Linked DNA regions of Homo sapiens. The protein of the gene in region 6 purifies or fractionates together with the protein of the main gene of each other region. This does not show direct contact. Each region holds a gene or a part of one and is shown on either strand. Other genes may lie near its edges.

Region 1 (4,551 bases), on a different chromosome or scaffold from region 6:
AAACAGCTGAACATGGTAGCGTCCGCCTAAGGTACTAGCTACTCAGGAGGCTGAGGCAGGAGGGCTGTTTAAGCCCAGGCTGCAGTGAGCTGTGACAGCACCACTGCACTCTAGTCAGGGTGACACAGCAAGACCTTGTCTCTTAAAAAAAAAAGGCAAGGCCAGGCGTGGTAGCTCACACCTGTAATCCTAGCACTTTGGGAGGCCAAGACGGGTGGCTCACCTGAGGTCAGGAGTTCCAGACCAACTTGGCCCGCATGGCAAAACACCATTTCTACTAAAAATACAAAAATTAGCTCGGCATCGTGGCAGGTGCCTATAATCCCAGCTATTCGGGAGGCTGAGGCAGGAGAATCACTTGAACCCAGCAGGTGGAGGTTCCACTGAGCTGAGATTGCTCCACTTCACTCCAGCCTGGATGAAAAAGTGAAAACTCCATCTCAAAAAAAAAGCAAAAAATCTGAAACTTAAACTTAAATGTGGAAATACTTGTTACATTTTTAATAGTGAATATTTTTAAGGCCGGGCGCCCTCACACCTGTAATCCCAGCACTTTGGGAGGCTGAGGCAGGTGGATCACCTGAGGTCAGGACTTTGAGACCAGCCTGGCCAACATAATGAAACCCCATCTCTACTAAAAATACAAAAATTAGCCAGGAGTGGTGGTGCACACCTGTAATCCAAGCTACTCGGGAAGCTGAGGTAGGAGAATCGCTTGAACCTGGGAGGTGGAGGTCACAGTGAGCCAAAAAGATCGCGCCACTGCACTCCAGCCTGGGCGACACAGCGAGACTCTGTCTCAATTAAAAAAAAAAAAAAAAAAAAAATTGAACAATTTTAATGACAACCTATTCTGCTACAGAATTGAATTTCCTTCACTTGCTAGGCCAGAAATATCTAAAACCTGGCCAAAGCTACATGCTCAATGTATCACCACTAGAATTTCCATACTAAGCACCACACTTAGATACATTACAGGTTCCAAATTTTGGATTTCCTGCATCATAGGTACAGTAACAAAAACACTAAGATCTCTGTGACAGCCTACAACACCCTAGACACCAGGCACCAGAAACAGAAAGTTGAATGAGGTGGCCCTTGCCCTCCAGAAGCTTAGAGTCTGTGAAGGGAGATACACACCACACATGTACACACACACACACACCAGAAAGATGGGCCCATCAGCAGCATACATGCGACACCACACAGGAGCCCAGTGAAGGACGCAGTTAACCCTGAAGGCCAAGGGCCAGGAGGTTTGGCAGTTAAAGCTTCTCAGACAACACTATGTCTTCGCTAGAACCTGAAGGATGAGAGTGAGTAGGAGACTGCCAAGCCAACAGGAAGAGGGGGACATGGGTTCTTAACAGAAATTAGCCAGTGAAAAAGTACAATCATAGGGAGAGTGGAGGGTACTAGGGGAACCGAAAGATACTCCACCCGGCTGAAGCACAAAGTACAACGAGGCACGGAGAAGAGGCAGGAGGGACACAGGTGTTGTTTGGGGAACCAGGAGAGGCAGGGAATGGCCGATGGCAATGGGTTCTTCTGGAACAGCCCACTATCTCTAATTAGAAAATAACAAGCCTCACGAAACTGATCAAGAGGCTTTAGGACAATTAGAAGCAAAAAACAACTTATTAGAGATGGGAATTTCTACTCACTTGTTCAGGCTCAACATGGCAGAACATTGATATTTTCTCCTTCACTGATGTGTCAAGTGGATTTGAGCACCTGCATACAACCTAGCAGTAGAGAACAAGATGGCTTAGACAGAAGGAAAAAATGACAGAAGTAGGGGTTTCTCCTGACTGAAATTAAAACAGACATCACATTGTTAAGATGAACGAAAACGTTAACTCTCAGCACCAGGCACATAATCCATAAAAATATTATGACTCGTTTCAAAGCTAAAATCCGTAAACGCCAAACTGGAGAAACATAAGAGAATGGCAGTACAAATGAATACATTAATGAACTACAAGAGCTCTGGGATTTTCCTCCATTAGTGTTCCCAAGTAGGAGTAAAAATGAGAGTAAAAAGACTGAGAGGAAAAATAAGGTCTGGGGAGTACAAGACCTAACACGCTCTAAGTATGAACATCTTGCAAACTACAGCCCGGTTCAAAGAACTAATCCTATTTTCTCCATCATCAATTATCAAAAGCAACCCAACAAGACAAAGGTCTTGTCTGTCATGATAGAGTGATCTTAACTAGACATAAAAGATTACACTGCAACCAGCTATCAGGAAATCTTACCAGATCTGGGGAAAGCCCAAGTCCTCTAAGTTCCCGAACACTATTCTGGGTAGGTTTAGTCTTCTGTTCCCCTGTTGAACTTGGCTATTTCACAAAAGAAAAAAAAAAAAAAGTTAGTTTCCCTCTGATAAGGAATTTTCAAGTATGACTTTTCCTTGAACCTCTTTTAATAAGGAAATAGATCATTTGGTCACTTGTGTAATTTAGCTTTTATGTTTGTCAAAGTTACACATGCATGCATTTTAGAATCAAATGGTTCTAACCGAGCTTGTAAGCAGTATCGGCCCTCACCCACTCTCCCCTTTCCAATCCCTAGAAACAACCGCTCTTCAACTCTTAACTGATCTTGCTGGTGTGCTACTTCTCCACATTTACTTGGAGGCATTTTCTATTGATTTCCCTGTTAAATGAGGATCCTGCCCCCATTAGACACTTTCCTGTGCCTGCAGTCCTCTTTTGGGTTTACATACTTTTTAAGTATTTAAATACTGTTCCCAAACCATGTGCCACACTTTTCCTTTCTGTACTAAATCATCTTTATTCTTCTCTCACACTTAACAGATACACGTTACACATGGACTTGTAGGATGGAAATCATTTTCTGTTGGACTTTTTCTTTTTTTTTAAATCGAGACAGGCTCTTGTCACATTGCCCAGGCTGGTCTCAAACTCATAGGCTCAAGCAGTCCTCCCACCTCTGCCTCCCAAACTGCTGAGATAACAGGTGTGAGCCACCATGCTCAGCCTCCACTAGAATTTTTAATGAAATAGCATCAATGTCTTTTAGCTTCCAGTATTGTTGCTAAGGGGTCCAGTGGCACAATGATTCTTGATTTTTCTCTTCAGAGCCTTTTAGAACTTCTGCCCCATTAGTCTGAACCTTCACAATAATATGCCTTGGTGTAGGTCATCTGTCATCCAATATGATAGGCACCAAGGGGGCCCTTTCAACCCAGAAACTGATGTCTAGAAATTTCCTTGAATTGTTCAGATAAGGGGTCAGAAAATTTTTTCTGTAAAGGCCCTGATAGTAAGTATTTTAGGTTTTGTGGGCCACACAGTCTCTGCCACAAGTATTCAACTCTACTGTTCTAGAGCAAAAGCAGCCACAGACAGCACATAAACAAGCAGACACAGCTGTATTTCCATAAACTTGATTTCCAAATACGGGGGGGTAGGTTCATGTGGCCCATAGGCCATCATTTGCTGACCCCTGGGGTTCAGATTATACCTCCATTTCTGTGTTCTTATTTTTTGGAACTCCTATTATTTGGACATTAGAACTTCTGAGCCAGTCCTCTAATTTTACCTTTTCTCTCCTATTTTCTATCTCTTGGTCTTTTTGCTGTACTTCCTTGGGTATTTCCTCAACTTACTTTCTCTTAACTTTTTCATTTCTGCTATCTAATTTTTAATTTCCAAGGATTCTTTTCTGTTCTCTCAATGTTTCTTTCTTATAGCATCCAGTTCTTACCTAACGGATATAGCTTATCTCCTTCTAATTTTCTAAGAATAGTAATGACAGGTCATTTTTGGTTTTTTGGTGTTTTTTTAAAGTTTCCTCTGCTTGTAGCGCCTCAGTTCCCTGTAAGTTTCTTTCTTTCTGTTGTTTGGTCTCTTACCTATCAGATGCTTTCTCCAAGTGTATGGAGGCCTGCTTAAATGCTACCTATAAGTTATGTGTGAGTGTGTAGGCTTGTCATGGTGAAAATCTGGCTGGCTTATTTCATGGGGAGCCGCCAGAGCCAGTGTCTTTTATCCTGGGCTATCCATACCCCAGAAGACAATCTTACAACCTCCTACGTGGAATGGCCAAGCCTAAACATGATGATTCTGGGAACCAAATGGTGGAAGAAGGCAAGGACTGTCAACAGCGTTAACATTACACATAACCCCATGTTTGTAGTCCAGTGTTACTGCCCTCAACTGTCCCTACTGTCTGCTCATCCAGGAACCCTCCCCAGAGAACAAGCCTCCAGTCTTCTGCCAAGGTGGGAGGAGGCTAACGCCCAACTGTGCACTGTAGGAAAAAGATGTCAGGGTCTGAGTCTTCTGAAGCAGTAGTTACATGAGGCCCACCCTCATCCCACTCCTGAGCTTTTGGGGTTCTGCAGGGCAAACAGGGCTGCTTCTCTGCTTTCACTGCTGCGGGCTTAAGATCCGGCACTCAAGGTCAGCTTAGTCGGTTCTATGCATCCATCTGCTTTCCGGCTTCCCAATTTTTGTTACTATTGACTCCTCTCCACAAGATTTGTCTTTAAAAACAGCCTCTTTACTCTAGTTCCACCAT
Region 2 (2,648 bases), on a different chromosome or scaffold from region 6:
TATATACCCCCTATATATATGACATATAGCATAAACATCAAATATGTAACAGTATTAAAAATATAATCTGAATTTAATATTGTGATGGTCAATTTAACGTGTCCACTTGGCCAGGCCATTGTTCCCAGATATTTGGTCAAACACTAGTTGTAAAGGCATTTTTCAGATGAGGTTCATATGTTAATCAGTCAACCAGGCAGAGTGGATGACCCTTCACAATGGGGGTGGGCCTCATCCAATCAGTTGACAGCTTTAAGAGACAGAAGACCCACCTTCCCCAAAGAAGAGGGAATCTGCTAAAAAGTGGCCTTCTGGCCATGCACAGTGGCTCACACCTGTAATCCCAGCACTTTGGGAGGCCAAGGCGGGCGGATCACGAGATCAGGAGTTTGAGACCAGCCTGACTAACATGGTGAAACCCCATCTCTACTAAAAGTACAAAAATTAGCTGGGCGTGGTGGCATGCACCTGTAATCCCAGCTACTCGGGAGGCTGAGGCAGGAGAATCACTTGAACCCAGGAGGTGGAGGTTGCAGTGAGCCAAGATCACACCACTGCACTCTAGCCTGTGTGACAGAGCGAGACTCCGTCTCAAAAAAAAAAAAAAAGTGACCTTCTATTTAAGCACAGCATCAACTCTTCCCTGGGGCTCCAGGCTGCCCTGAAGATCTTGGACTTGTCACTCTTCAATCACATGAGTTGAAAAATACATCTCTTTCTTACACGTATACCCTCCACCCCTCTATTGATTCTGCTTCTTGGGAGAAACCTAATATATAGTATAAAAAATGTACATCTCGAGACACACACAGAGGCTAAAGCAAGTAAGAGCTATTATATAGTGGGACCTATTGCTACGTTTTCACATCCTTGGAAAATGGAGTTTATAAAACCAGGGAACCAGCAGACCTGCAGCCAGCCAGGTGGAGAAATGGGGCCGGGTGGGCCATGCGGGGGGCTCCAAGGACCTGGTGTGAGCATGGGGCCAGCTGGGGCTCTGCACCCTCCACCTGGTACTGGCCCCCTCTGCTGTGGGAATCCTGGTTTTCCAGGACACCCGCACCTCCATCCCACAGGACTGGCTGTCACAGGTGATGCCGGGCCTGTCACATCCTGAATAGGTGACAGCCTCTCCACGTTGGTTCTCTCCACTTGGGCACAGCCTCTTGGGGCAGGCCACCCCACCGTTCTGCTAAGCAAGTGCCCTGGGGTGAGTTATTTCTGTCCCCAGGGGGCTCGTTGCTCTTGAAATGGGCAGGTGGCATCTGGTCAAGCAGCCACCTTACCTGGGAGCCCAGCACTCTCCCCAAATCAGAGCAGGGCTGCTCTCGTTGAGCTGGGAGGGGAGTGGGGGGCTTGATGCCAATGACAAGGCCACTTGCTATCCCCTACTGTCCTGGAACTCCCAGGGCAGCCCTGCCCCAGTGCCCAGCACATCCTAGGAGGCAGGAATGAAGAGGACCCCTCCTGCCAGTGCCCGCACTGACCCACCTCCACCTCCACTGCCCCATCCAGCCCTGAGCCGGCATCTGCCCTACTTTGCAGATGTTAGGGACATACTCAAGGCCACCTCCCTGGCTGCTGGCCCAAGCTGGCTGAGCTGGCTAATACACGAGGCCTTCCCTTCTTCCTAGAAACAGGGGGCAGCTTTGGTGCCCCCAAGGACAGACGCTTCTGCAAGGAGAAAGCTTAGCATGTGTCTGCCAAATGCCCCGCTGGGCCAGCTCTGCCCACCTCCTCACCTGCAGCGTGTAAAGATAAGGCAGCCAGACACAGTCGCCCCAGCCCAGGTACCACCCGAAGTGGTCATGGCAGATGTCAATGGTCTTCAGGTACCAGGTTTCGTTCCAGAAGAAGTCAATCACGTAGATGGCCTGCAAGACAGAAGCAGCCGCTGACCACCCCCGGCCCTCCTGGGGCCCCCATGGACCTCGGGGAAATCACACTCCACGCAGATGCAGCAGGGGGTGCTCGGGAGCTGCTCAGCAACTTCCTCAATGCTGGGGCTGTTCCTTCCCTGCGGCTGGGGCTGTTCCTGCCTGGGTCATGGGCAGGGCTAAGGGCTTCCTTGTCCTCAGAACCACCCCGAGCCCATGGCCCTGGCATCTCTCCCAGCCCAGGTTCTCAGGGCTTGCAATGGCGCGTGCCAAGGGGAAGGGATACATTCATCCCATCCAGGTCAACCTCCTGCCCGAGCAACGTCCACAGCTCCTGACAGGCCTCCCTCACCCTCTCGGGTTCTCCTAGCCAGCTCCCGCTGGCTCCCTGGGTGACGCTTCCGAATGCACCTGATCGCTGCCACCCTGCACCCCAGCTCAGCACACACTTTCTGGGTCTTGCTGCTTTTAAGATAAAGAGGAAGACTTCCATGAGGCCTCCAGCCTCACCTGGCTCTGAGCTCCTGAACGCTCTCTGGTCAGGATGCGGGATGTTTCTGAGTGTCCCAGACTTGCCACCCTCTCTCCCTACAGGGGGTTCCTGGAGCATGCACTCTTGCCTCCACTCTACCAGGTTAACTCCCACACACCCCCAGATTCTACCCAGGTGTAATCCCCAAGGGAGACCTTCCTGGACCACGCCTGGCTGCGTAGAACCTGCCTCCTCCCCTCCCAGGGCTGGCAGAGACAGGCACCCAAGGATGGCTTCCT
Region 3 (4,551 bases), on a different chromosome or scaffold from region 6:
ATGACTGTTCAAGAACATCTCCTGCAAGTTTAAGTGCTTCAGAATGCAAATACATCTTCAAACAAACAAACAATCCCACATTGTAGGCAGGCTAGTCAAGGGCCTTGTAAGTCTGTATAGATGCTGATGGGCCAAGCCAGCTCAGCCATCTGCTGGGGGGAGGCAGGATCACACAGGAGAGAGTTCTCACTTGCTGTTATTTCCTAAAAGGTGAAATGATTCACCAATTATTCTGCAAATGCCAGAACCCACAAAGAAGGCTATCAACATGCCAAAAGTTAAATTACTTAACTTTAATTACGACAAAGCAAAATTCAAGGAAAAATTACAGTTGAATTATACCACGTAGATACAAATTAGGATGGAATTTAAAAGTGAAATAAATAATAATTTACCCTCGCTCTATATCTGCAAACACCTAACTGATTCCCACATGCAGAGGGACTTCACTAGTCAAGAAAACAAAGGAAAAAGTGATAAGTGAAGTAGAAGCAAAAAGAAAAAAAAAGCTCTTAACTATCTAATAGTTTTTGGAATACTTGCACACAGGGGTACTTTCCAGTGGTATAGGAGGTAGTCCCCAATTTTCATTATGCCATAAATGTAATTCCATCTAGTAGAGACTTATGTTTCACTTTTTTTTTCCATTTCATTTGACAGTTTGCTGATATCCATTTGAGCAGCCAGTACACAGTGCTTGGGCAACCAAGATTTTATCTTTCTTCCATTTTAAGATAAAAACTTCAGAAACACATATACCTAAGAGTGGAGAGTAATGATAGCTCTCTAAAGGGAACGAACTTCCAGATAGAATCTCTCAATGCATTTAGTAATCATCAGTCTGACAAAAAGTGACTGGAAACCTTTTTATGAGCAGTACTTTGCCTCCCAGGTATGGGAAACATGGTGATTCCCTCATCCCACTTTATAGATGAGGTCACTGAGGGATAAAGCTGTTATAAGATAGTGCAAGCTTGCACACATGGAGTTTAAACCAGTTAATAAAACAGTACTTAAAAGCAATCCATCCGTGCATGATTGCTGTACGTCCAATCCTGCCCAAGGCACCAAATTCCCATGTCTTTGTTGGTAAAGGAAAGCCAACCTTGGATTAAACACTCAGGTGACATGGACATACCTAGATGCAGCAGCAAACGCAACAGCCCGGGCAGCAGTGGCTTCTTCTAACTTCTTCCTCTTTTTCTCTTCCATTAACTGTTTCTCTACAAAACTTCGGGCTTCCTGCTCAGCTTTTAGCTTTTTCTCCAACTGGCTGATATTCTGCTTGTCTTTTTGCTTCATTTGCACAGCATTATGTAACCTATATGGAAATGATTGTCATATAAAGTCTTAAAATTACAAATGCCCACTATAAACCCTTGAGAAACATCTCTTTATCACCTTAAGGCCAATTAAACAGGAGGTTTGAACAGCAAATCAAAAATGTCAATGCCCAGAATGCCTGAGGAAAACACACTGTTATTCTTTAATAATTCCTAAACACCAATAAACAAGCTGCCTTACAAAACAGAGATTAAGACCTAGCCTCTGCTCTGTTCAAGTAAGTGATCTACAAAAGGTCATCCAGAAAACAGGGTAAAACAAATTTTGAACAGAGGGGAAGATAATTGTAGAACTAATTCTAATGTTCCAGAGCACCCTGAAAGAACTTCAGTCCCACCAAAGAACCACTGATGGGACCAGCCCCAGTGAAACTAAGGTAAGGGGTGGAAAGGGGAAGGTTTTTATTTTTCCTGAATACAATTTTGCTGTAGCCTACTACAGCTTTTCCTTTCCAGCTCAGGATGTTTGCTCACAGTGTCCCCAAATCCTCTTTTAGAGTCACAGGATGCTTAATTTCAGATAGAAATTTCAGCCATATTTCCTGCTTACTACCACCCCCAGCTTTACCTATCAGCATGAGGTGAGTTTATCACTGGGATGTTCTCTACATATCAATGCTAGAACCACCACAAATGCTGGTCAGAGGCAATGGAGAGGTTATTTGCCTGTAATGCCCTAGCTTTTGAGTTACATTCCTTAAAAATGTTGAACTCCTCTTTCAACAGGGAAAGCCCAGAAAGCCAACAGCCTGTAATGATCATCACTACCACGGGCACACATTGCTGGGAGATTTAAAAAAAGAAAAAAGGACAGACCTACACTGAGTTAAGAAGTAATTCCAGAATGAACTAATCAAAAGCCTAAATGAATTCACACAGAAGACCTGGCTTTCTGCCTGCCTTTTCAAATAAAATCAAAGTTCAATGTCATCTTTTAGTTCTGGAAATAAAAGTAAATATAGTCAAATCCTCTAGAAATTTTCACTCAAAGGAGCAAAATTTTCAAAATGTGACAGAACTACTTCTTGTCAATTTTACTATCCAAAAACTCAATAACTATTTTAAACTAAGAAGTTATTAAATGAGAGAAGACAAAAACAGTAATATTAATAAACTGTTTTGTGGCAATGAAATAAGTTTTTATAGATTTTATAAACATGTTGAATATCTGGTACTAAATAAAGTATTTTAAACATTTTATTTAAAAACCTCTCAGCAGGTCTCTGTCACCATAAATCTTGTGCTCCAACCCCTGGCAACAGGAGAAGCAGTGAAGCTGCCGGGCTTACGGCCAAAGGCCTGAAAGGTGCACGTACTTGTTCTGCAGCAGCTCGTTCTCCTGCCGAAGCTGGCCCATTTCTGAGCGGATCCCTCGCTCGGTGCTCGAAAGGGAGCTGATCTGACTGCGGAGCTCTTGTTCCACTTGTCTGCTGGCTTGCAGGTCAGCCTTTAACTTTTTAATGTCTTGTTCCAGCCTAGGAGAATGAGAAATGCAGCATTTTCATCTAGGTGAGGGCACCCACAGAGCTGGGAGGGACCTGGTGGGGGTCCTGGACTGCTGGGTGAATGGCAGAAAAAGGACCCCGCTGGCAGTTCCTGCCATGATGAGGACTCCTGTCTGCAACTGGGTTAATTTTGTTGAATGATTCCACCTGGGTCCCTACCTCTTCCTACTGGGGTGTAACTTTCAACTTCCCCCTGTTTATGAATAGTGACAGGTGAGTATGGTGCTTGTGAATATCCATCCGAGCTGCTGATAAAGGAGAAAGGGACAGCAGAGAGGGTGGCTGAAGACTAAAGGCTCCCTTCTGGTGGCTTTTCATGCCCTCAGCAAGGGAAATATGTTCAAACAACTAGCACATGACCTACCACTTAATGCTTTGTGATATTTTGATAAATCAGAATCTACTGTCTGAGACTGCGTCCCACCATGGGCCTAGAAGAAAACGGTCTGCGACGACCTCCAGAAATTGCAGCATCCTTGCTGAATGACGTTCACAACTCTGGTGATTGCGGCAGAAGAGCTCACGAGACTCAATAACAATGAAAAAAGGAACAAATTACATGCTCTAAGAATCATAAGAGAACTCCATCTGTAAAATGAAGCCTATCTTTTCTCGTCAATTCCTTACTCTTGTTCCATCTATTTTCTTTACTGCAGTAATAGTTTCACTTTAAGTGACAGGTATTGGAGACCTACTATGCATATGTAGTGCTGAAAATGGTCAACAAAAACTATCGGCCAGGCGCAGTGGCTCATGCCTGTAATCCCAGCACTTTGGGAGCCCGAGGCAGGCGGATCACCTGAGGTCAGGAGTTCAAGACCGGCCTGGCCAACGTGGTGAAACCCCATCTCTACTAAAAGTACAAAAATTAGCTGGGCATGGTGGCGCGTGCCTGTAATCCCAGCTACTCAGGAGGCTGAGGCAGGAGAATCACTTGAACCCAGGAGGTGGAGGTTGCAGTGAGCTGAGATCATGCCACTGCACTCCAGCCTGGGTGACAAGAGTGAGACTCTGTCTCAAAAAACAAAAAACAAACAAACGAAAACTATAAAATCAAGTCTCTTTCTTCATGGGAAAACTTCACAATTAGGAACAAAGAAATAGGAACCAAGAAATACATAATTTAAATGATTAAACAATAAGACAAGGAAGGCCATGATTAAATATATGCCAGAAGGAATAATAACAACAGCTACTATTTAATGAGAACTTATGGGCCAGGCACTGTTCTATAGGGTTTAATCCTATAATCTGTACAACTATGGGCCAAATGCAATTCCTATTCCCATTTTTACAGATGAAGAACTCTAGGCTAGGAAAGGATGCAGCCCAAGGTCATCCAGGCAGTCTAGCTCCAGAGTCCATTCTCTTCACCATTAGGCCAAACTATAGCCATGTCATCCACAGCATGGTAGAGGAAGAAGTGCTATGTGAGTCTGAGGAGAGAAGACTGGGAAAGGCTTTGCAGAGCAGGTAGAGATTGACTTGGGCCCTGATGTTTGGATAGGATTTGGAGAAGTAGAAGAGGAGGGGACATTCTAAATGAGGGGAGAAATGTATTAAAAAACTCAAAGGCAGGAACAGCCATAGACATGTGCGGGCAAGCCATTAGTCTGGCTTCTGAGAAAAGCTTGTACTGGGGAGAGAGTAGGAAAGGATAGAACAGATCTGGTAGATAGGACTGTGGAGAGTGGTGCTGAAGG
Region 4 (4,551 bases), on a different chromosome or scaffold from region 6:
AATACACGAGAACATCCAAATATACTCTTATCCAAAACAGATACCAGTACATGTATCCGTTTAGAATGTGATGGTTATCTCAAATCACTTGAAAAGATAAACTTTTAAATAATGGTGATGGGACAACTGGATAAACATTTGGAAAAATTAGATCAATACCTCACACCATATATAGGAATAAATTCTAAATGGAGTTTAGATCTCTGATTTAAATATGAAAATAATGAAATTATACAAGTACTACAAGAAAACATAAATAATTTTCTCTACAACCTGGGTACAGGGCAGTGGTTCTCAACTGGGGGCCCTGGGAACATTCAATAATGTCTGGAGTTATTTATGGTTGCTATAACTATCAGAGCTCTACTACATCGAGTGGGTAGATGTCAGGGATGTAGCTAAACATCCTACAATGCACACATCTTGACAACAAGGACTTATCTAATCTAAGAAGCCATTAGTGCTGAGGGTTGAGAAACCCTGGAATAGAGAATGGCTTTTTGTGATTACTAAAAATCCAGATGCAATAAAATAAAATATTGATATATTTGACTAAATAAAAATAAACAATTTAAAAAAATTAGCCAGGTGTGGTGGCAGTGCCTGTAATCCCAGCTACTCAGAAGGCTGAGGTAGGAGAATTGCCTGAACCTGGGAGGTGGAGGTTGTAGTGAGCTGAGATCACACCACTGCGCTCCAGCCTGAGTGATAGAGACTCCATCTCAAAAAAAAAAAAAAAAAAAAATTGAAAAGGTTTTAAGTTTTGAATAAATTTAACATTTAATATTTTCCCTAACACTTTGCATTTTGCTTTTTCATCATAATTGTATAATATTTAAAAAGTAAAGATTTTTTTTTACAAAGTTCTGTATAGCTTCCCCCAAATCCATTCCTGTTTACTCCAATGAAGCACAAAAACATTAACATTTTCTGTGTGTGCAATGATGCAGAAAGACTTGGGAACTGCTGCTATTTATAATGCCCATTTATGCCTTAAATTGTTTATAACCTGCTTCTCTGAGTGTCCTCTTTATAATATCTATGTGCATGTATGCATATATGTATGTGTAAGTGTGCATATGTTGGTGTGTCTTGCAAAATTCCTGGAAGCAAAGACATTTGACATAACTATACTTTACATTTAACATCTATTCAGTGCCAGGCACTGTCCTAAATGCTTTATATATATTAACCCACTCATCGTAACAACAAATGTATGAGATAGGTTCTTTTTTAATCTCCATTTTATAGATGACACTGAAACAAAGCAGTAAGTAACTTACTAGTAACTGCTAGTAAGTGGTGAAGCTGATGAAGGATTAATTCACTGCTTGATAAGTATTCTCCATTATGGCATTCATGACAAGTAATGTTGAATTGCTTAAAAAGCTTAATCTATTTCAACTTTTGTGTTTATGCTTGCTAAAACTGTTTTTGAATCAATATTCTTTCGGGTGCATGTCCATGTTTACTCTGTTCCACTCTCCATTCCTATGTTGCATGAATGTTTTTAGCTTGTCATTATTATTACTGCAATCGCTGTGCAAAAAGCCATATTCCATGTATGTCTGGAACTCTTAAGTGCCTACTTATATTTGTATTAATAATAATTGTCCATAATAAAAATAGTGTATATATATATATATAAAAATTCTGATAATACTGCTATGGTTGAAGCAAAGTCTTATAAAGGACTCAAGTCAAATTTCTTTGGAGCAGTGTCTATATAAAAGCTCCATTAATAACAAAGATTCTTTCTCTTGTCATATTAAGGTTTATCCCTCTAGACAGACACAGTACAATCATGGCAGCGTATGGACGTGGGCAACCCAAACCCAACAAATACCTGTGTACTGATTCAACACTCGGCTTAACTTCTGGAAGCGGTAGCCCTGAGGGCTGAGTTTGAAAATTATGTCACTGTGATACAACAAACTGTACAAGCGGTGAAATATGATTTTGCTGAGTTCAAATATGGCTTTTGCATAAGGATCATGGGTGCTAGAAGAGAAAGTTGGGATAATGTGTTAATAAACAACTTAGAAAATGTGAAGAAATATCTTTTTTGCTCTCCCACCACTGACCTGTTTGTCTGGCAGTTGGTCTCCTTGCTGAAAGCGCATTTCATGATTATATCCAGAGACATCGAGTTGATGTGCTCATAGACCTCCACGCTTGTGTCCTGAGTGCTGCAAATCTTCTCCCACTTATCCTGGCACAGGAGGTCAAGACCAACATCATCACCACCACCATGACCAAATTGCCTTCATTTGAAGGCTCCTGCCTGGCCCTGTTTTTATGATCTAATGGAGACAACCCTGACCCAGCAGGAACCAAAGATCACATGAGTAAATAAGCCATGTGCTTACACAGGGCACGAGGAAGGGAAAAATACACCCAGCGGAGTGAGAAGGAGCATGGAGAAAACTGCATATATGGTAAATGGCTGAGTTAAAGATCTGCGGCTTTTCAATTATTACCATAACTCTGCTTTCAAACAGACCAGAGTTCCATTAAAGCAATCATTGACACAAGACCCATAATTACAAGGGGTTTACCCCAGGGCTTCCTCCAACTTCAATTCCAAACTTGCTAGGTACCCTGCCACTGCTCTCAACCACCATAGCCACATTTAAAATAAACTCAGAACATTTTCAAAAACGTTTGGATTCAAAAGTGAGAAACAGAGCAAGTGTGGAGAGGAGCTGCTGCAGGGAGCTGCCCCCAGCAAAGCCTGACCTGGCTTAACTTCCCCACAAAGAGACCTACTTATACTGCTTGAAATGCTTTGCCTGACATTTTTAAACTGTCACAAGGTCCCTGGTTGAAAATGTATTTGTATAATAAGCATACTTTGTGTAAAAATTAAAATAAATTGAAATTTTAAAAGTTCAGGTCGACCGATAGGTCTTAAGCACCTAGCCCCTAGCTTAAGACCTATCGGTCAACCTGAACTTTTAAAATTTCAGAGACTTGGCAACCACAAAGGCAAAGAGAATTTTAAAAACTTTTTCCTAAGTGCAAATTGTTTAGTCAAAGAGCCTTTTTCTCAATTACGTAAGTTTTACTAAGAACAAATGGTGAATGTAGAAGAAATGAGAACAGGAGGGAGGCTTCCAAGCTTGAAAAACTCTGGAATGATGCAGCAGAGGAAGGAAGTGTGAGAAAAATCCCGGAGAAATATGTGGCTGAGAAATGAGGAGGGGAGGAAGCGCTCCGAGAAATAGAGAGAAAACTCTAATGCAACTCCAGTGCAGTCACTGGAGGATCTGAAACTGTGCTGCACCTGAACAGCACTAGAGTCACAAAAGGATGCTCTTCTCTCTCACTAGCTTGCACTGCACAGTCTCTGGGTCTCTGCCTTGAGAACTCACACTGATGTTTTTACCACAGTCCTGGCTGACTTCGGGTTCAAACTGCTTCTGTGAGTTTGGCTGAGAACCCAATCATTGAGCTGGTAACAGAGGTTTGTATGGGAACAGGGATGGGTTTGCACATGAAGTGAGAGGAAAACTTTGTCTTTGTTTGTGGTGTTTGAGGTGTCTATGATGAAAGTGTATTAGTGAATTACTTGTCTTATTTCAAAATAAATATGATTTAAAAATTGAAGCCATTGTACAAATAGAGTTTTGGAATAGAACTCGTTTATAAATCAGAGACCACTCACAGGAATGTTCTTCAGCCCCTTTGAAAGGTGTAGGTCAGGGCCTAATGATCCTCCACTATCTACAAGAGGAAATTCACATCTGCAACTTTAATACACACATTCTCTTTTGCTTGGTCCTTTATAGCCACTGGGCAAGTCCATGCCAATCTCCAAACCTTTGTTCATGCTCCCTCACTCTGCCTCGAATACTCTCATCCATATTACCTACATATTCAAGTCCAGCTTATGTTTCATGGCAAATTTGAGTTTCCTCTGAATCTGAAGCTGTTATAGCTGCTCCTGCCATCCTTACCTGTCACCTTGTGAAGTTAACGCAACTCCATACTGGAAGCTAATCTGCCATCTTGACTTCCAATTAACTCTAGTTCCAGGAATGCTCTGAGATTTCCAGTTTATCTATTGTTCCTTGTGTAAGAGCATGTACTTACCATAAATCTTGCCCTTAGGGCAAGTTCTTACTATTAATAATTTCCTCTGAAGCATGTATGCCCCTCCCCATGGTCTATAATTCCTGGGTCTGGAGGGTAATGGCACAGGGATCCACCATCTTGTCTCACAACTGTGTGAAACAGCCATGGTTTTTGTTTGAAAGCCTCTATTGAATGTTTCTTTTTAAGAAACTGTCAGCCTTTTTCTTCAGCCTCTCAGTTTCCTCAGACTTTGGGGTAGGTTTGTACAGACCCGCCCTCCATGAAACACATCTACAGCACTTACTATCTAACTATCACCATTTGGTACTTGGTTTGCTGCCATAAAATCTCAAAATATATCTAAGACAGAGGACCAGATCTTTTTATTAATATTATCACTCAAAGAACATAACAAATTTTTTACAGACACCTATTGTTCAATAAGTACGTGTACATTGGTTAAATTTTTAGAAA
Region 5 (4,551 bases), on a different chromosome or scaffold from region 6:
CCGTCTCTACTAAAAATACAAAAAATTAGCCAGGCATTGTGGCATGCGCCTGTAGTCCCAGCTACTAAGGAGGCTGAGGCAGGAGAATTGCTTGAACCCGGGAGGTGGAGGTTGCAGTGAGCCAAGATTGTGCCACCGCACTCCAGCCTGGGTGGCAGAGCAAGACTCCATCTCAAAAAAAAAAAAAAAAGAAAAAGAAAAAGAAAAAGGCCAGGCACAGTGGCTCAAGCCTGTAATCCCAGCACTTTGGGAGGCCGAGGTGGGGGGATCACGAGGTCAGGAGATTGAGACCATCCTGGCTAAAGTGGTGAAACCCCGTCTCTACTAAAAAAACAACAAAAAAATTAAAGCTGGGCACGGTGGCTCACGCCTGTAATCCCAGCACTTTGGGGGGCCAAGGCGGGCGGATCACAAAGTCAGGAGATCGAGACCATCCTGGTTAACACGGCGAAACCCCGTCTCTACTAAAAATACAAAAAATTAGCTGGGCATGGTGGTGGGTGCCTGTAGTCCCAGCTACTCGGGAGGCTGAGGCAGGAGAATGGCGTGAACCCGGAAGGTGGAGCTTGCAGTGAGCTGAGATCGCGCCACTGCACTCCAGCCTGGGCGACAGAGCACGACTCCGTCTCAAAAAAAAAAAAAAAAAAAGTATAAAAGTATAACTGTTATTGGGGAAATGACCTGAAATGTGACTTTTAAAAATTCCTAAAGGTCCAATAATAAGGTCTCAGTTGACCCTAGAGATTTCCAATGGCAGGCCTAACTTAGTCCTGCTGGTTCATTAATGTGGCAAGGAAGAGTTTCCAGTTTCTTATGTGTACTGGGATAGACAGGATCTTATGTTTTAAATCTTAACACAAATATATCAAAATTATTTGAAAAGAGTCATAGAAAAATGTTCTAGGTGGCAGTCTCTACAAAAATACTGTACTAAAGCAAACGTTGGGAACCTTTTACCAATCTGCTTTCATAACGCTTAGACCTCATTAAACACACTTTGAAACATTTAGAAGCTTCCAAGTTGAATAACCAACTTATGTGCAATCCACAACTTTCCCGAGTGGGAGTCAACAAATCAGACACAGACATCTTTCATCAAAGAAGCAGCTTTTACAGAAAAGCAGATAACATTAAACAGAACAGATAAGGACAAAATGTTTTCAAAAGCACAACTGAAACAAATAGTATTCCACTTGGAGTCTCATGAAAATCCTGTAAAATACTATTCAACACCAAATAAAAAGCAGCAGCTGTATAGAAATAAGGAGCAAGTGGCAAATACACACTAGACCAGTTTTTCTGAAACGTCAGAGCAGAAAAAGAGAAGCCATAAGCAAATGAATGGCAAACACGGACCCAATTCAGAGAAGATACAAAGAGGAACAGCGGCCACCTCCAGCCCACCCAGGTGCATGAAGAAAGCAGGTGGGGGGTGGAAAGATCAATGAAAGGTGGAGATACAGAGTCTGAAACCAAATGCCTGCAAGTTCGGCTTATCTTGGTTTTTTCACTCTCCAGCCAAGTCACTTGCAGAACTACTGATTGACTCAAAGTACAAATAACTCCAAAATGTCACACACGTCAGTTATAAGCTACTCATTTCCCTCAAGCAAATCCAAGAGTACACAAACTATTATTTGTATTTCTTCTGGAATTTGTACTCATTAAGGTATCAGTAGTAAAGGTAATCAGATAGTAATGAAGAAAAAAACAGCTTCGGGTTGTATATGCACACAGATTCTATACAACCTCAGTAACATTGAAAAACCACTTGGTAAATAAGGCCTGATTTGCAATTCTTGACCCTCTGAAGGGGAACTATGGTATAAAAAGGACAATCATTTTATCAGTATCATGGTCTTTAATTCCCACTCACCAAAGCAGTGTTTATACCAAAACCTGGACTCTGCAGAAAGAGCTCATTTAAACAGACCATAGAACATCGACACACCATCGATGGCACATGGTGGGCACTCCACACATGGTAAGCTCACAGGGGCCCGCCCAACCCAGAAGGTAGACTGAATACTCCATACCATGACCCATCTCTGTCTGGGCATAAGTGCCAATGATCTCCAAGTTCCAGGCGGGCATGAAGAAGCGCTCCTGCTGCTCCGCAGTTGCCTGGTGAAGCAAGGTGGGCAGGAACATGCCCAAGTGAAGATCCAGAGGCTCAGGCCGCCCTCGGTGCACAAAACTTCGAGGAAATATCAAGGATGGGCATTTGAGAGAAGAGTCATCAGGTGTGAGAGAATCAGCAATTTAAATAGAGCAAGGGAAGGAGACAAAAAAACCTTAAGTATGAATTAGTTGCGTGCACTTAATCATAGATGGGAGCACTGTCCCTTTCTGTATTACTTTATAGCTCTTGTTAATTTCCATTTTTCCTGAGTCGGCAAGGAGTACGAGGACAGGGATTGGTTACTGATTCCAAAGCCAATGCAGCACAAAACCACACGTGCAAGGCAGAGGATCCTCGCCCAGGAATTAAATCAAAGGAAATAAAGAAAATTTGAGAGGCCAGTGCAGTGGATCATGCCTACAATCTCAGCACTTTGGGAGGCCAAGGCGGTCAGATCACCTTAAGTCAGGAGTTCGAGACCAGCCTGGCCAACATGGCAAAGCCCTGACTCTACTAAAAATACAAAAATCAGCTGAACGTGGTGGCGCCAGCCAGTAGTCCCAGCTATTTGGGAGCCTGAGGCAGGAAAATCGCTTGAACCTAGGAGGCGGAGGTTGCAGTGAGCCGAGATCATGCCCACTGCATTCCAGCCTGGGTGACAGAGTGAGACTCTGTCTCAAAAAAAATAAATAAATAAATAAGAGAGAATTGGCCAGGTGCAGTGGCTCCCACCTATAATCTCAGCACTCTGAGAGGCCGAGGTGGGTGGATCACCTGAGGTCAGGAGTTCAAGACCAGCCTGGCCAACATGGCGAAACCCTGTCTCTACTAAAAATACAAAAATTAAGCAGGCATGGTGGTGCACACCTGTAATCCCAGCTACTCAGGAGGCTGAGGCAGGAGAATTGCTCCAACCCAGGAGGCAGAGGTTGCAGTGAGCTAAGATAACACCACTGCATTCTAGCCTGGGCGACACAGTGAGACTCCATCTCAAAAAAAAAAAAAAAAAGAGAGAGAGAATTTGAAAAGTTGTATAGGGCCAGGCATGGTGGCTCATGCCTGTAATCCTAGCACTTTGGGAGGCTGACGCAGGCGGATCACTTGAGGTCAGGAGTTTGAGACCAGCCTGGCCAACATAGTGAAATCCCGTTTCTACTAAAAATACAAAAAAAAAAAAAAAAAAAAAAGGCCGGGCACCGTGGCTCATGCCTGTAATCCCAGCACTTTGAGAGGCCAAGGTGGGCGGATCACCTGAGGTCAGGAGTTCAAGACCAGCCTGACCAACATGGTGAGACCCCATCTCTACTAAATATACAAAATCAGCCAGGTGTGGTGGCACATGCCTGTAATCCAAGCTACTTGGGAGACTGAGGCAGGAGAACCTGGGAGGCGGTGGTTGCAGTGAGCCGAGATCACACCACTGCACTCCAGCCTGGGCAACAGAGCGAGACTCTGTCTCAAAAAAAAAAAAAAAAAAAAAAAGTTGTATAGAATGGAGAATTTGCTGGGTGTGGTGGCATGTGCCTGTAATCCCAGCTACTTGGGATGCTGAGGCAGAATCGCTTGAAGCCAGGAGTCGGAGAACAGAGAATTTGAGTGGTACTGGTACAAGGATTTCCTCTGATGAGAAAGCGAGACAGAACATAGTAGTTCTCTCAGAGTGACAGTATGACCCCCAGATTATAGTTTTTCCTCGATGCAATTTCAATAATGCTTCTAGGCTGGGATTTTTTTTCTGTTTTGTCCACAAAACATCCAGCGTAGAACCATATTCCTCACATAGCTCTGATCATTTCATTCAGATTCATCATGTCAAATATTCGGCCACGCTCTACTGAAACACTTTAATACAAAAACTGACAGTGCTCTTCATCCCAATAATTTATTTCAGAAATTAAAAAAGACATGCAATTTCTAGTGAAGACCATAATAACGACAAGTTACAGATTCATGCATAAGCTCTCCGTGACAATTATACAGAAATTATCATTAATGATAATAAACAGCTTTATTAGTTTTAAATCAACTTTCTGGGGTCATTCTTTTCCACTTAAAACGTGCAGGGGACAGGATTCTGTGTGAATTTTTGCTAGGGATAGGAAGTCGTTCTATAGGCCTTTGCATTTTTCCACATTACTGGTATTCTGTGTAATTGCCAGCTCCAAATCCGTCAACTCCATATTGCTCTTATCATTCTATGTGTCTTTGAAATGAGCATAAATGACAGTTCAGTTTTTAAATTGCTGTTTGTTCCTTGCAAGGTAGGGAGGAAAAGAACCAGGGCACACTGCTCAGACAAGTGCTAATCAATGACTTCTTCCAATCTAGTGGCTAGGCTTTCAGCTAAGCAATCACACTTTAGAAAAAGAAAAATCAAAGTATGTGTGACTGAATCCCTCATTTTACAGAGGAGAAATTAAGGCTGAGAT
Region 6 (5,021 bases):
GGATTCTGGTCTGAAGGGAAGCTCAGCCCAGGCACCTCAGAGCTCTGAGGCTGGTGTGGGGCGTGTCCTCAAAGGGCGGGGCCTGGCGTGCCTAGCTGGAGCGGGTCCTCAGGCTCCCCCGGGCGGCATCCCCGGGCTCTGCGCTAGGCCTGGAAAAGAGGGTCTATCCTGGGCTGAGGGGAGCATGGTGCTCCTTGGTGACCGTGGGTGACAGCCTTTGTTGGGTTTGCTTCCTTCCTATCCCCTTTTCCAGGTAGAAAAACAGCTACAGGTGCCTACGTGTTAGTTTGGCTTAGGTCTGGATTGGGACTTGGAGACCCAGTTCACCCTCCCCTCTGCTCTGGCCCTGCGCGCCTCCACGCACCCCCCACCAGTAAAGAGACTCGGCCTCCTGGGACAGACACAGTTTATTGATTTGGGCGGAGGCGCCGCGGTGCAGCGGCCCAAGTTTGGCACTGGGAGCAATGGAAGGAAGGACAGACAGATGCAGGCTCTACACAGGGGAGCCGCAGGTGGGGACTCAGGGTCCTCTTCACCTCCGCAAGGAGCGCGATGGCTTCGCTGGCCTCGGTGCTCCAAGCCCCATTGGACAAGAGAGAAAGGGATATGGAACGGGTCACAGGGAGGGGATTTGGGCAGAAGTCAAGGTTGAGGAGTGGCTGGGGTACTCGCTGGAGGAGGTGGGCCCTGAGCCAGAGCTGGCCAGTGGGCTTGCAGAGCAGCCCCCTTGACCCAAGGCGGTTGGGTGGGCTGGAGGAGGAGTGGGGATGCTAGCTGCGGGTGTAGTAGTAGTTGTAGTCGTCCTCGCACGCATCAAAAGGGCCAGGCGGGCTGCGAGGCTCGCCGTCCTGGCCAGACACAGGACGCTCACGCAGGCGCACCGCATCGTACAGACCTTGCGGTGGCTCATCAAGCAGCACATCGCGCTCGGAACGGGAGCGCGTCAGGAGGCCCACGTTGCGGAGCAGCAGCAAGACGGGAGCATAGAGCAGGTTGGCCAGTCCCATGCCAAGGCTGAGCTGCTCAAAGCCCAGCGAGTGCACAATGTGGCCTGCCACTATGGGCCCGAGCGCGTAGGCCACCGAATAGGAGATGTCGGCGATGGCGTAGACGCTGCCATAGACTGAGACATGGCGCACGTCCACCAGGAAGGCGAGCGTGGGCAGCAGTGCTGTGTCGACTAGGGCTATGCCAAAACAGAGGCCGCATAGTGAGACCACTAGCGGCGCGAAGGAGCGGCAGGCGGGCACGATGCACGAGCTGGCGCCGATCACAGCCAGCCCAAGCGCGCCGTACAGCCACTGCAGGTGTGGGTAGCGCGCCGCCAGGCGCACGGTGAGGTAGACGCCCAGCACATGAGGCACGAAGGCCGGCAGCCAGGCCATGCCCATCTCCCACTCGGAAGCCGCCATCGTATGCTTCATCCACGTGGCAATGGTGGGTTCGAGGAAGGCGAGGGGAATGTTACAGGTGGTGAGCGCGCCGGCCACCACGGCAATGTAGGGGTCTAGCATGAGGCGGTGGATGGGAGTGCCCACTGGCAGGTTGGCCCGAGCCCGTGCAGCCGCCGAGAAGGGTTTGGCCACTGCCAGCAGCAACAGCGCGTCAAAGAGCGACACGGCAGCTAGCACCAAGAAGGGCACGCGCTTGCCGGCGAACTCATAGAGGATGCCCCCGAAGGGCGGGGCCACTAGGCTTCCGAAGCTAATGAAGGCCAGCGCCACGCCCAGTGCACGACTGCGCTCCGGCTCCTCCGGGTACTTATCGGCGATCATGGCTATGCCAGACGTGTCGGCGAAGGCTGAGCCCAGGCCCTGCAGGCTGCGCGCCGCGAACAGCGTGGCGTAGTCCTCGGCGAAGGCGAACAGGACTGTAGAGGCGAACATGACGCCCAGGCCGATCAGCAGCGGCACGTCGTAGCTCATGCGGTCGATGAAGGGCCCGCTCAAGGGGTTCACTAGCAGCTGCAGGATAGCCTTGGAAGCAAACAGCACCCCGATCTTCACGTCTTCGCTCTCCGTAGGGTAGCGGGGCCGAAGGGCTGAGCCCGCTGGCCACGCAGCTGTCGGGGACGCCGAGGTGTTGGCCGTGTAGGCGCTGGCATTGGCCGGAGTGGGCAGCGGCAGGGTGGGCTCCCACACCTCGGGAGTCCGGGTGGGGCCCTCGCCGCCCCCGCGCATGTGGGCGATGTAGTCGGGCACTATGGGCACGATGACCATGTACAGCATGTTGTCCAGTAACAGCGCCACGCACACGATAACAAGCACCAGGCGCCTCTGCCGCCGGGGCTCCTGCAGCGCCGCGCCCACAGCCTCCGACAGCTTGGTGGCCGCCGCCCGGGCCTGGCCCGCAGGTTCCGCGGATTCCATGCCCCCACCCCGATGCTCTTCCGAGGACGCCTCCGCCAGGGCCGAGCGCTGGCGTCCCGCAGTGCAGAGGCGAGGGCACGGGACTTCGGGGAGGCTGTCCTGGCCGAGCAGACTCCCCTGTGCCTCAGGTGGCCGCGGAGCTCATGGCCCAGCGTCCCGGGAAAGGAAAGGACTCCGTCCGGCGAGGCGTTGCAGCTACTCTTAGCCGATCCCGGGACCCGCGGCTGCTGGGCTCAGGGGCGGCCGGGAAGTCGGGCGCGCCGAGGGGCCGGGGCCGGAGACTGGGCGCACTTCGCCCGGGGCGCGCCCAGAGCAGCCCCCGCCGCGCTAAGAGGCCGCCCGCGCTGGCCGAGGGACATGCTGTTGCCGCCCGCCCGCTTGCCCGCCCGTTAGCCCCGCCGCTGCGCTCCCCTCCCCTCGCGTCGGCTCTTGCCTCCTCCGCCGCCTCCTCTTTTTTTTTCCCTTCCACTCGGGGCTGTGACGCGGCGAGTCCCAGCCCCCGAGTGGTGCCCGGGCCACTTACGTCGCTCATGCTAATGCGACGTCGGCGGGGCGGGGGCCGGGGGCGGGGCGTGGCCGGGCAGGGGTCCGCTCTCCAGATGCTCCAGGGCTGGAGGCCCAGGAAGGGCTCTCGGTGTGGAAGTCTTGAACCAGCCCCTGGGATGGGCGTTCCGCGCCGGTAGCTGGCCCTCTGCCCCCCGCCCCCTGCCTGCCCCCCGCCCGCGGTTCTAGGACTCGCGGGGTCAGCGCCCGCTCTTCTCCTCTTGGGGAAGGGGGCGCGGCAGCCGGTTCCTCGAGGCCCCTTGGGAGAGGCGGGAGCCAGAGGCTTGCGATCTCCGCTTCAGCCTGGACCTCGGCGCACAGCGAGCAGGAAGCCCCCGAGGTGAGCCGCCGCTGCGTCCATCTGTTCTCGCAGCTGGATTGTGGAGCCGCGTCCGGAGGAGCGCTGGACACGGACACCCCCAACCCTTTCTCCGACTCCGCCCCCTGGCCCCTTGCACACACACTCCCGCCAGGAGGGGAGGGGAAGGCTCAGCAACTGCCTGGCCTGGCTCTGACCCACCGGCCCCTCCGCAGAATTTCTCGGCCGCGAATCGCGGCCGGGAGCTTGTGGGGACTGAGGGCAGAAGTTGCCGCGCCCCAGTCGGGGTCGCGAATATTAGCCTGGCCGCTGCCGCCCTCCCGCACTGCCTGGCCACATTCCCCTTGCCTGGAATCCCCCTTTCTCCTTTAGCGGTCTGGTCCCCCAGCTCCGCCTCTTCTCTCCCCGCCGCCGCACCCCCTCCCCACTCTAACTCCTCCCAGGCACTCTTCGCACCCGACCAAGCCCTCCCTCGGCTCCTGCCAGCCTCCGCCCCCTGTTCTGCACACTCCCCCATCCCTCATTTTCCAGAGCCTCCTCCAAGCCCCGGGTGGGCTCTGGAGTGACTGTGGCTGGGGTCCTCTCTTGGAACTGTAAGAAACCCTTCTTGGGTGCCGCGCCCACTCCCCGGAGAGCGCCCAGCCGCTTCGCTGTCGTCAGGGGCTCCAGGGAGACTCACCTTCCTTCTGAGAGGGCCGCACCCCTTGAGGCGCCCGTGCTCAGCTGACAGGCTGAGCTGCCCAGGCTGTGCGCTGGGCCTGACGCGTCCCCAGAGCGGCGTTGACCCTGGATGGCACATGGAACCCGTGTTCCAGTGGGCGGACTGGCGGGAGAGAGGCTCCAGGGCGGCTGAGGTTGGAGGTGGGGATTGTGTTGTTGAGATTACGGTTTGCGTCTCTCTTCCAGAGTCAGAGGGGAGCCTTCCCATTTTTCTGGCCTCAAAAGTAAAGCAGCATTAGACGCAGATGCTTCTCCCATTGTGCCCCCCACCCCGCAGGAAGTGCCGCGATGCAGTGCAAAGAGTGTGGTCTTTCGAGGCAGACAACCAGGATGGCTCCCAGCTCTGCCACGTACTCATTAGAGTACCTGCAGGGAATTACTTTGCCTCTCTGTCCCTCAGTTAGTTTCTTTGTAAAATTGAATAATAATAGTACCTACTGCTAAGGGGGCCGGGCACACAGTAAGAGCAGTATAAGGACTTGCTATGTTGTTATCGTGTGTAGAATGTGCGGTTTATCCTCATTTTTCACTTGTGGGTCTTGTGAAGAACAGATGAAAGACACAGGGGGCACTTGGCTAGCTGGCTGATCCCTCTGGCTAGGTGGGCATTGTGACTCCAGGCTCTGTCTGGGTTGGTGGAGGACCCGGAGGGCATTGGAATGTCTCCATCTGTCCCTGAGATGGCTGTAGGATGAGGGGATGGGGACCAATGTGTCAGGGTGAGAGGCGGCAGCCTGGCCACCTGTTGCTCAATTCCTTCACCCACCCAGTCACCCTGGGAAAGGAGAAACTCATCCACTGAAGGGCTGCTGCCACCTGCTCTGCAGTGACTGAAGTGCCCTCTGTCTGAGGGAGGAAAAGAGTCCCAATGTGGGCACAGGCCTGGCCCTGGATGACCTTGGGCAAGTCACAGCCCCTCAGTGGGGCCCAGCCTCAGCCTCCGTCTGGTTCAGGTTGAGGTGAGAGCCCACTCACTGCAGCCCTTAGCAGAAGTGCGTGCTGCAGAAGACTCTTTGGAGTGGGCTAATTATTTTAAATTGTATTTGATGGCCTTTCGTCAGTACATGCAC
Region 7 (4,459 bases), on a different chromosome or scaffold from region 6:
AGCCCCTATCAAAGAAGCGCCTGCACGTGTCTGCCACACAGGTCATTATTTGCTCCACAGTCAAGTATTTCTTAATTCGTAAGGTTCCCTGAACACCCTGGGACCATTCGGCTTCAGGAAATACCTCGAGGCACCCAGTGGGGATGTTAAATGAAGGATTACTTCTAATTACTTGCATTTCTTTTTGTAAGTACTTGGCTATTGGATCTGCATTGCGAACTATTCTGGTGAGCTCTTCTCTTGGATATTGGTCTGAGAGAGGAGGGAGGCCACTGCAATCCAAGTGGCTGGTCTGAAAGTAATCCAGAAAGATCCAGAGAATTCCTGGGCCACCCTTTGCTCTCCGAGTGATGCTTTTTGCCTTCCCATACCAGTCCCCATCTTCAGTACGGAAATTCTGAGCTTCGTCAATGACGATGTGTTGAATGTGTTCAAAGTTTTCTCTTAGGAAAGTTTTCCGGGTCTCTGCTCGGCAGATATTTCTATCACTGTAAAAATTAAAAGAACACACTCAGGTTTTCTCTAAAAAAACAAGGGGAGAAAATAATTGTATCATGTTCCTCCGAGCACAGTACATTACCACAGATCATTTTACCACTCAATTCTCAAGAAAGACGGTGACTTAGCAGAAAAAATTAAACCCAGATTAAATAATACTTAGAGACGTAAGATCCAACTGCTTACCTGATAAAGTTCCTCAGAGGCTGGTTTTCACAAACGTAGAGAATTCTGTGTGCCTCACAGTGAAACACATTCCTGATCTTCTCCATGATCTTCATGGCCATGATGGTCTTCCCTGAGCCAGGTAAGCCGTGGACAAACAACTCTCTGTTCTTGCGGAGGCTTCTGGAGAATATCTCATACTGCTGGGCTGTGAGCAGATTTAAAACCTCACAGCCGAGCTGGTCACTCAAGAGAGACCTGAAGCCGAGTAAGACAATCACGAGGGACTGCAGCAGGGCTTCCATGTGCTGGGTGCCTGCAAGGCTATAGGACGCAGGGTAATCCATCGGAGACACTGCAGCCTCCAAGGCCTCTGCGCTGCTCTCAGGACTCAGGCAGAGGACCTTGGCCCTGACACACACCTTCCCGGTGTAGCCCCCCATGTTCACTAGCTTCTGCTTCAAAGTAAAGGCGGTGCGAGTGCAGTAGTCCTGGCCCTCTGCATCTTGCTCCCTGAGAATGGTGTAGAGAATGGGGGTGCTGTTCTGTGCTATCAGCAGAGCATCACAGATGACTCCTGGCTTCTCCTGCAAGTTCAGGTCCACAGCCCAACTTCTAGAGAAGATCAAAATTCCCCGAAAGAAAGGTTGCATTTGCTTATTTATTAACTCCTCTAGTCCTCTGTGCTCTGAGATCAGGTCCCTCCAGAGTGACTCTGGAGTATATCGCAAATATCCTGGTGGGACTGTATGTGAAAAGAATGATAAATTAGAGGAAGAGAAATAACCCTATTGATTAAGATGACTAATTATAATTAACTAATTGATTAACTAAATGATTACTTATAGAAGTTTCAAATACTATTTTATAAATATTATTATATTATAGTTATAAAGGAAAAGAACCCTTGGAATATCTGGTATACTTCATCTAAACCCATGTGTTTTTTACAACTTATAACCTTGGGAAATTCCTTAGCCTAAGACTTTGCTGTCTCATCTGTAAAACAAAACTAAGAATAGCACATTTCCTATGAGGAGGAATAAATGAAATAACATAAAATGTTTGGCTCATTGTAGCTGCTTGAGAAATGTTGGTTCTCCTCCTCCCCTTTCTACTTTCAAAGTACCTGAATCTCAAAATGCCCCATTGCTGGGAGTAGCAGGAGCCCCCCCTCCTCCACTGCCACAGGAAGAAGGTAGTCATTAACTCCATAGTTGCAGAGGAGAGGGAGTCATATTAAAACCTTTGTTGGCAGCGAATTTCCTGCAGTCCTGGACTGGAAGATTCTTAAAGCTATCTCTCCTGAAGCAGAATTCTTGCATCACTTAAAGATCAACGTATGGCTCCCCACTACCACAAAAGTCTTCCCTGTGTCACAGGCAAACAAGAAATAATTATGTGACACGAGAATATACTTGCATTGGAGGATTATGAACTTATTTCAATGATCAAGGGTTCCAAAGTGGGAGGGGGAGGAAGATAATTGTTGTCCTGTTGTGGTAGTGTTAGAGTACAAACCCAAATCAAGATTTGTAGTGGTAATTTCAAATGAAATTACCCAGATTTTATTGGTAATTGTTTCTTGTTCATTGTTGCTAGTGCTTTCTCATTCGTACCAGGTGCTCACACGACTTGATTATCCCTGCAACCTAGATGACAGTAGGAGATAGCATCTATTATGAGACACATCCAGATTTTAGAGATGTTAAAATATAGGGGGAGATACACATCTTAGAATGGATAAAATAGGATAATTGAGTATATGTTTAAAATGAAGCTTTGGAAACCAAAGAAATGTAAAATAAGAAAATACATCATTTGTTGATTGTTACCAGGGAATTTGCATGTATCTCTGGTCTTCACAAATTTTCCAAGGATGACATATTTATTCCCATCTTCATATGAGTAGATAAGGACTCAAAGAGGTCAAGTGAGAGCTGGGTGCAGTGCTATGGGCCTGTAGTTCCAGCTACTCAGGAGGCTGAGGTGGGAGGATTGCTTGAGCCAGGGAATTTAAGGCTGCAGTGAGCTATGACTGCACCACTGCACTCTATCCTGGGCGACAGAGCAAGATACTGTCTCAAAAAATAAAAAATAAAAGAGATCAAGTGATTTGCCCAACATCACACCACTAGGAAATGGCAGGGCGAGTCTGAACCCAAGTCTCTTGGACATCGGATCCTCTACTGTTTTTGCCCTGCCCTGCAAGTCACAGACTACTCCTGCCTGATAAATGGTAAAAGTCACTAAAACACTTGATGTTTATTTACCTTATCATTGCATAGGTCTTCTTTTTCTTTAATTGTATAATGGAGCATGCTTCTGAAGGAAATTATAGGAAGATAAGAAGTGCTTCTTTCATTTCTTTGATATTCCACATAACAGTAATGATAGGGACCAGACTAGGTGTTCAATTAATGCCATCATTCCAGGTGCACCAGAGTAGTCACCACTCCCCATGTGATTTGAGGACTCTGTGCCTTTGCACAGGTGTGCTCTGAAACTCTGAAGACTTCCACCTTGATCACTTGATAAACTCCTCACCCTCCCCAGAACTCCCATATTCATCCTTCTGTCCTCAGAGCTCCCACTTTGTATCCATTCTGGGAACTAATTTCACCATGGATCTAGGGAATCTTTAGAATCAGCAGTGAAGGGTCCAGGGCAGTTGTTCTCAAACCATAAGAAATCAATCAGGTGAGGTATCCTAAAGGTTTAGGACACCAAGAGGAAGAACACTGGAGCTGGCTGATTCTGACCTACTACACCAGGCCCTGACTATCTTTAGTACCAGTAACTCCAGTTATAGACAAAATTTCTATTTGAGACAATCATTGCATTTCTTCCAAGAGAAGCACTGACAGCATTGATTCTGAAGCCAAATTATTGTCAATCAATGCTAATAATTAGTGTGCTAAGAACATCTTTATTCTTAATATCTGGATTCTAATTGTAAAAGTATAAACATAGTTTGTTTACCACCATTAATGTTCAAAATCTAATAACAATAACAGTGTTCCAAAAATGAAAATTGTCTTTTAAAAAAATAACTTTAGTTAATATATTCCTATACCAAATACCCAAACACTCCTACTCTCATTTTCTTAATTTCCTGCCTTCCCAATCTCACCCTTCTCCCTTATCACAGATACTTTTAAGTTTCTTGCCTATTCTTCCGAAATTACTTTATGCAAATACAAACAAATATTCTGCCCTTTCTTTCCCAACAGGTAGCAAACCATTCAGCAACTACTTTTTTCTTCACTTAGCAATGTATGGTAGAGATCTTTCCATATCAATGCACAATTCCTTATTCTTTTCTTACAGCTATCTAACACAGTATTTTATGGATGTACCATATCTTGTTTGACCAGTCCCTATTGATGGGCCCTTGAGTTTTCCCTCCAGTCTTTTGCTATTATGTTAATACTACAGTGAGTAACCTTGTATGTTTGGTGTGTATGTAAGCATATGTAGCATACACACACACACACACACACACACACACACACACATAATAAAATCCCAAAGGTTAAATGCATTTGTGATTCCAATATATTAATATATTGCCAAATTGTCCTCCAATGGAGTTGTACCAATATGGACTCCCACTAGCAATGTACAAGAAGGTGTGTTTCCCCACAACTAGCAAATAAGAGATAATGTCAGGTTTTTTCATTTTTTAACAATCCAGTAGACGGAAATAATTCTCCTTTTAATTTACATGTCTCTTATTTTGATTAATATTTAGCATCTTTTCAAATGTTTCAAAGCTGTATGAATTTTATTTTCT

What was found.
Region 1: the proteins of SLC18A3 (region 6) and CTPS1 purify together in Homo sapiens (affinity purification with mass spectrometry; one large-scale study listed by BioGRID and IntAct). This does not show direct contact.
Region 2: the proteins of SLC18A3 (region 6) and DHCR7 purify together in Homo sapiens (affinity purification with mass spectrometry; one large-scale study listed by BioGRID and IntAct). This does not show direct contact.
Region 3: the proteins of SLC18A3 (region 6) and MACO1 purify together in Homo sapiens (affinity purification with mass spectrometry; one large-scale study listed by BioGRID and IntAct). This does not show direct contact.
Region 4: the proteins of SLC18A3 (region 6) and CYP4X1 purify together in Homo sapiens (affinity purification with mass spectrometry; one large-scale study listed by BioGRID and IntAct). This does not show direct contact.
Region 5: the proteins of SLC18A3 (region 6) and ACOX1 purify together in Homo sapiens (affinity purification with mass spectrometry; one large-scale study listed by BioGRID and IntAct). This does not show direct contact.
Region 7: the proteins of SLC18A3 (region 6) and SLFN11 purify together in Homo sapiens (affinity purification with mass spectrometry; one large-scale study listed by BioGRID and IntAct). This does not show direct contact.

What each region holds. Positions count from the first base shown.
Region 1 is NC_000001.11:40,988,959-40,993,509, reverse strand, and holds part of CTPS1 (CTP synthase 1), read right to left. Parts: intron 2,346-4,551; coding exon 2,262-2,345; intron 1,746-2,261; coding exon 1,665-1,745; intron 1-1,664. UniProt on the Homo sapiens protein: This enzyme is involved in the de novo synthesis of CTP, a precursor of DNA, RNA and phospholipids. Catalyzes the ATP-dependent amination of UTP to CTP with either L-glutamine or ammonia as a source of nitrogen.
Region 2 is NC_000011.10:71,436,070-71,438,717, forward strand, and holds part of DHCR7 (7-dehydrocholesterol reductase), read right to left. Parts: intron 1,875-2,648; coding exon 1,743-1,874; coding exon of another isoform or gene 1,735-1,742; intron 1-1,734. UniProt on the Homo sapiens protein: Oxidoreductase that catalyzes the last step of the cholesterol synthesis pathway, which transforms cholesta-5,7-dien-3beta-ol (7-dehydrocholesterol,7-DHC) into cholesterol by reducing the C7-C8 double bond of its sterol core.
Region 3 is NC_000001.11:25,482,383-25,486,933, reverse strand, and holds part of MACO1 (macoilin), read right to left. Parts: intron 2,819-4,551; coding exon 2,660-2,818; intron 1,322-2,659; coding exon 1,139-1,321; intron 1-1,138. UniProt on the Homo sapiens protein: Plays a role in the regulation of neuronal activity.
Region 4 is NC_000001.11:47,033,467-47,038,017, reverse strand, and holds part of CYP4X1 (cytochrome P450 4X1), read right to left. Parts: intron 2,213-4,551; coding exon 2,085-2,212; intron 2,002-2,084; coding exon 1,847-2,001; intron 1-1,846. UniProt on the Homo sapiens protein: A cytochrome P450 monooxygenase that selectively catalyzes the epoxidation of the last double bond of the arachidonoyl moiety of anandamide, potentially modulating endocannabinoid signaling.
Region 5 is NC_000017.11:75,958,179-75,962,729, forward strand, and holds part of ACOX1 (peroxisomal acyl-coenzyme A oxidase 1), read right to left. Parts: intron 2,198-4,551; coding exon 2,037-2,197; intron 1-2,036. UniProt on the Homo sapiens protein: Involved in the initial and rate-limiting step of peroxisomal beta-oxidation of straight-chain saturated and unsaturated very-long-chain fatty acids.
Region 6 is NC_000010.11:49,608,089-49,613,109, reverse strand, and holds SLC18A3 (vesicular acetylcholine transporter), read right to left. Parts: upstream 2,801-5,021; 5' UTR 2,370-2,800; coding exon 771-2,369; 3' UTR 390-770; downstream 1-389. UniProt on the Homo sapiens protein: Electrogenic antiporter that exchanges one cholinergic neurotransmitter, acetylcholine or choline, with two intravesicular protons across the membrane of synaptic vesicles.
Region 7 is NC_000017.11:35,352,652-35,357,110, forward strand, and holds part of SLFN11 (schlafen family member 11), read right to left. Parts: intron 1,409-4,459; coding exon 685-1,408; intron 489-684; coding exon 1-488. UniProt on the Homo sapiens protein: Inhibitor of DNA replication that promotes cell death in response to DNA damage. Acts as a guardian of the genome by killing cells with defective replication.